Linked DNA regions of Homo sapiens: region 2 is linked to region 1. Evidence: fine-mapped expression QTL. A gene starts in region 1. The other region holds a variant in brackets. All regions are shown on one strand. Distances are from middle to middle. Region 1 holds the start of RNASEL (ribonuclease L). Region 2 overlaps RGSL1 (regulator of G protein signaling like 1).

Region 1 (2,918 bases):
GAGACATTTAACACTTTATTATAAAATAAGCTTTGAGCTAGATGATTTTGCCCAACTGTAGCCTAATGTAAGTGTTCTGAGCACATTTAAGGTAAGCTAGGATAAGCTATGACGTTCAGTAGATTAGGTGTATTAAATGTGCTTTTGACCTACAATATTTTCAATTTAGGATGGGTTTATCTGTATGTAACCCCATCATAAGTCAAGGAGTATCTGCAGTAGTGAAAAGAGCTTGTACTCTGACCTTAGGGAGATCTAAGTTTGAGCTTGTGGCTGTGTAATTTTTTACTATTACTTCCTGTAACCTTGGATTGTTGAATCTCAATTTTCTATTTCCTGAAATGGAGACAAAAATAAATACAGTCATGTGTGTAAAGTACATTAAAGTATGGAGTGTTGCAAATATTAGCCACTCAATGAATGTTAGAGCTAATTATATCCCGTTATGAAAAAATAAATTGCTTAGTGAATTCTATTCTCCCTACACATGTGCATATAGCTACTACACGAATAGGCAACTGGCAGCTATCAATTTCGTCCAACTGTCAATCAGATCTGAGAATTACAGATCCAGTTCAATCATCAGACAGCCCGAAACTGTTACCTGAATATTTAAATAACTGCATCTGCTATAGAATTCACGAAGCAACCCTTTTTCAGCAATCTCACCACTCTGACAGTTTCAAAGCCTCAGAGGTTAATTGATTAGCCTCTTAGAAGTTTAATTAATTGTGCAACACATACACGATCACCAGGCAATGAAATCTTTGAACCAAAGTGTTTGTGTAGACCGTCCCCATTACAATCAGATGTGAGGTGGGCTGGTATAAACAAAGGAGCCGGGAAGGAGAGGAAATATCAAGGAAGCCCTGAGTGACGCATCAGAGTAGAGAAGAGACGAGCCTGCGGAAGTACTCCAACAGACAATCCTGCTTTCAATTTCACTTTCTCTGTGCGACCTGAGTAAGTCGCAAAGAGATGCCTGAGAAACTGAGGACATGGATAAATGACGTGTGGACTCTGACAGAACTCTGGAAGGGCACTGGAGGAAGATCCTTCCGGGCAGCCAAGGGCTGGGAGCTCCCCTCCCACTTCCCAAGTCCTCCAGCCCCTGGCCTCTCCAGTCTCCAAAGCCCAAGAATTCTTCAGGATCGACTTATCGAGGTTTTCTAGCTTTCCTCCTTCTGCCTGCCTTACCTGCTCAACTCAGACGTCTCAATTATTCCTTTGGCAGCCGCAAAGCCTGGAAGACTGCTTGCAGCCCGAGCAGTTTCCTCCTGCTGCGTCACTGAGTCAGCAGGGCGGAGCCAAGAAAGGAGTGAGGAGTGTGGGAGGGAAAGCAGCCACAGGCTCACTCTGGCACCAGGAGCAAAGCTTCTACTTGCACACCTTCTGGAGGAAAGCAATAGCCACTTTCTGTCTGCTGATGAGGAATGTGATGCCCGGGGTCATGTCACTCACCTCTCAGTCTTGCAGCCTTTCAGGTGGCAGCAGCCAACTGCATCCATCACTCTTGCATCCTTTCTTTGTCATTGCAAATTCTGGTCTTCTTGGAAGAAAGGAATGGAAAGTAAACACATATTGAGCACCTATTGTGTTCCAGACACAATGCTTTACATGCAGCATGGTCCCAGTTAACCCCTGACAATCTTGTTGATTATGAAACGCAGGCTCATAGAAGCTAAGTAAGCCCAAAGCCCAAGCCCTGTCACCTTTCTCAGCTCACTCAACTCACAGCTCTGAGGCAGTGCGGCCTTCTCAGAAGGGTACCGGACTGGCAGTCTGGAGACCTGATCCTACAGCCAGCTCTGTGGCTGCTTAGCTGAGTGACCTCAGGCATGTGATTTAACCATGTAGGGCCTCAGTTCTCTCCTATAACTTGGTTTTGAAGGTTCCTTTCTGCTCTACAAGTTCTGTTCTTGACTATCTTCCTAGCAATGAGCTGTGTACTGTGTACTTAGTGCTGTAGTGGAAAGTATTTCCATCCCCAAAGAATACCCAGTCTTGCTGGGGAGACAAAGCCCTGGGACTTGTGAACAACAAGTAGTGCATGGTCACTTGACGACCACCTGTGTCACACCATCCAGACCCGGGGCCTCTACCACCCCTTATACACCAGGGATTCCCAGGCCTCGCTCTCTAACCCCAGCCTCTCTGCTGAGCTTTAGACCTACAAATCTTGAATATGTGTCAAATGGAAATACTCATCTTTTCCTAAATCTGCCCCTCCTCCCACTTATTCCATCTCCACAGATGGCACCATCACCCGGAGGCCACCCCTCATCCTCATCCCAACACCAAGTCTCTTGCTTTCATCTACAAAGGGATGACCATTCGAGTCCTTGTCATCATTTATAGCAAGAAATTGATGACTTGCTTCCTAGCCCTTCATCCATTGTTCCACCCTGCATCATTGACCCACCATCATTTTCAGGACAAAGTTCAAAAATCCTTAACCCATTATTCATTTAATTAATACTTGTTGGACAGGCGTGGTGGCTCACACCTGTAATCCCAGCACTTTGGGAGGCCAAGGCAGGCAGATCACCTGAGTTCAGGAGTTCAAGACCAGCCTGGCCAACATGGTGAAACCGCGTCTCTACTAAAAATACAAAAAGTAGCCAGGTGTGGTGTTGTGCACCTGTAATCCCAGCTACTCGGGAGGCTGAGGCAGGAGAATTGCTCGAACCCGGGAGGTGGAGGTTGAAGTGAGCCAACATAGTACCACTACACTCCAGCCTGGATGACAGAGCAAGACTCCGTCTCAAAAAAAAAAAAAAAACTTATTGAGCACTGACTATGTTACCAGTGACTATTCTGCATATCTGGCATAGAATGATTTACCACACCAGTTCCTCACAGAGTTCTTCTAGGAGCTTGCATCTTAATAGGCAGAAATAGATCATAAACAGTTGAAA
Region 2 (2,918 bases), 42 kb before region 1:
TTAGCATTTCTTGTAAGACATGTCTGTTGGTCATGAATTCTCTCAGCTTTTGTTTGTCTAGGAAAGGCTCTCTCTCCTTCACAGTTGAAGGATAGCTTTGCTAGATACAGTACTCTTGGATGGTGGGTTTTTTGTTTTGTTTTGGTTTGGTTTTTTTGCACTTTGAGAATTTTTTCTCAAATTTTCCTGGCCTTTATGGTTTCCATTGAGAAGTCTGTTGCCAGGTGAATTGGAGCTTCTTTATATGTTATTTTCTTCTTTTTCTGCTTTTAGGATTCTCTCTCTGTCCTCGACCTTTAAGAGTTGATTACTATAATACTTGGGGTAGTCTTATTTGGGTCAAATTTATTTAATGTTCTCTGGCCTTCCTGTACCTAAACATGTATGTCTTTGTCAAGTTTTAGAATGTTTTCTGTTATTATTTTGAATAAGTTTTCTTTTCCTTGCTCTTGCTCAACTCCCTCTTGAACACCAATAATTTTTAGATTTGCTCTTTTGAAGTAATTTTCTATATCTTGTAGGTGTCTTCATTACTTTTCATTCTTTTTACTTTTTTCTCCTCTGTCTCATTATATTTGAGTTCTGAGATAGTGCTGGTAAAAATCTCAGTACTATTTGTTTGTTTTGAGTTTCCATATGGGAGAATGAAGCCAACTTGCTTCTATGCTAACATTTTGGAACCTAAAGTGTCTGTCTACTGATTTCAATTTTTATTTCTTTAAAGTGGAACAGAATTTAAAGATTACTGTGAAGCAATTTAATCCTTCTGGCTTTGTATACCTTTTTTTTTTTTATGTTTTAAACTGCCTGGCCACACCTAACTCAACAGTATTTTGTTTTTGTTTTCATGAGACGGAGTCTCACTCTGTCGCCAGGCTGGAGTGTGGCACCATCTTGGCTCACTTAAACCTCCACCTCCTGGGTTCAAGCGATTCTCTTGCCTCAGCCTCCCAAGTAGCTGGGACTACAGGCACATGCCACCACGCCCAGCTAATTTTTGTATTTTTAGTAGGGATGTGGTTTCACCATGTTGGCCAGGATGGTCTCGATCTCCTGACATCATGATCGCCTGCCTCAGCCTCTCAAAGTCCTGGAATTACAGGTGTGAGCCACTGCACCCAGCCAACAACACTTTTTTAAAAAGCTACTTGCCTTCATTAGAATTTCCAAAACATTCTAACTTGTTTTCATAGAAATAATAACTTTTCTTTAATGTTCATATTTTATCAGTTTTCACAAGTTACTAATTATAGCAATTATAGTTACTAATTATCTTTACAATAGGGAAAGATACTTGGGAAGCAACACACCTCCTGGTACACATTCACTTCTGCTAGTTTGAGAAAGATGAGAATGTACTAAAGGTGTACCACTAATCTATGCAGTCAGCATGTCATGGGCATCAGTCAGTGTGTTTTTCAAAAATGTAGACACCTGATAATTCATGCATCAGTTAGAAGAGTTTGGTTAAGAGATCTTCTACTCACCCCAGTGATGGATTTAGCTCATTTCCACAGATGCTTGTTGATTGCTCACTCTTTACTGAACACCGGTTTTGACATTGGATATACAAAAAACAACTATGACGTGCTCTCTATTTCTAAGATCCCACAAACTAATGAGGATGGCAGAAAAGACACAAACAAAAGTTAGGAAGTGTCTCAGGATGATAGGTGCTATGGGAGAATCAGGCATAGGAAGTGTATTTAGACAACAGTAAGTCCTCAGGTATGGTTTCTTGGGAGACCCAAAATTCTTGGGTAATCTAAGCTAAATTTTGAAGGAAGAGTAGAGGTTAGTCAGATAATAAAGGATG[T/TA]GGGGGAGGTAATGGAGGAGCAGAGGGAGATACTAGTCAGAGTGAATAGCCTCACCTGCTGCTGCTCCGATTCCCACCACATTGCGTCTTCTTCCTTGCTTGACCTCTACAAACTATTCTCTGTATAGCAACCAGCGTAGCCTATTAAAAACATAAACCAGACTAGATTATTCTCCTGCCTAAAATGTTCCACTGGCAGCAGGGTGCGGTGGCTCATGCCTGTAGTCCCAGCACTTTGGGAGGCCGAGGTGGGTGGATCACGAGGTCAAGAGATCGAGACCATCCTGGGTAACATGGTGAAATCCCGTCTCTACTAAAAATACAAAAAATTAGCCAGGTGTGGTGGCAGACGCCTGTAGTCCCAGCTACTCAGGAGGCTGAGGCAGGAGAATGGCATGAACCCGGGAGGCCAAGCTTGCAGTGAGCCGAGATCACACCACTGCACTCCAGCCTGGGATACAGAGTGAGACTCCATCTCAAAAAAAAAATGTTCTACTGGCTTCCCATTACCACTGGAATTAAGTCCAAACCTCCTCTCATTGCCTAAAGTGCTCTACAGGAGTGGGACCTGCCTGCATCTCAGGGCTTGCCTCAGGTCAGCACAGGAGAGGGAAGAGCAAGATAGTCCTTAGGCCTTGAAGTCATTAGAGGTGCAATGCTGTAGGGCCAGAATGGGTAAAGGAGGGAAGGTGGGATAAACAAGGGGGTTTGTGGTGAAGACATTCACTTGAAGGGGCACTTAACATGTTATCTGACCTGTGATAAGTGCTCAGTATTTGCCAATGGATGAATTATGACTGAATGAATAAAGTCACAACCTGGCCTAGAACTGGCCTTGCGTTTTTTGGGCCAGAAATGAGTCTAGGCTGGGTGCCTTGTTAGTCACTGTTTTCATCTTCTCCTCCTGATTTCCTACTTCACATTTCTTTTTTAGATTTAATGATCTGGTCAGTTCAGCCCACATGCTGCAGGTCAACCGGGCATATAATGAGAATGATGTGATCCTAATGCGGTCCAAAATGAACATTATCCAAAAACTCTTCCTGAATTCTGACATCCCTCCAAAGCTGAGGGTAAGAAAGACTCCCACTCCACTCTGGCC

What was found. PIP is the estimated chance that this variant, and not a neighbour inherited with it, causes the effect.
Region 2: its variant is the best candidate, but not a certain one, in a credible set for the expression of RNASEL in whole blood (INTERVAL, PIP 0.67).

Annotation. Positions count from the first base shown.
Region 1 is chr1:182,587,970-182,590,887 of GRCh38, forward strand. It overlaps RNASEL (ribonuclease L), which reads right to left and starts at 1,287. Exons shown (of 7, transcript NM_021133.4): 1 at 1,198-1,287. RefSeq lists an enhancer at 1,003-1,162.
Region 2 is chr1:182,545,567-182,548,484 of GRCh38, forward strand. It overlaps RGSL1 (regulator of G protein signaling like 1), which reads left to right. Exons shown (of 22, transcript NM_001137669.2): 16 at 2,751-2,889. Among named protein-coding and RNA genes, the nearest start is that of RNASEL, 42 kb to the right of the region's middle. The variant T/TA (reference allele first, on the strand shown) is at 1,817.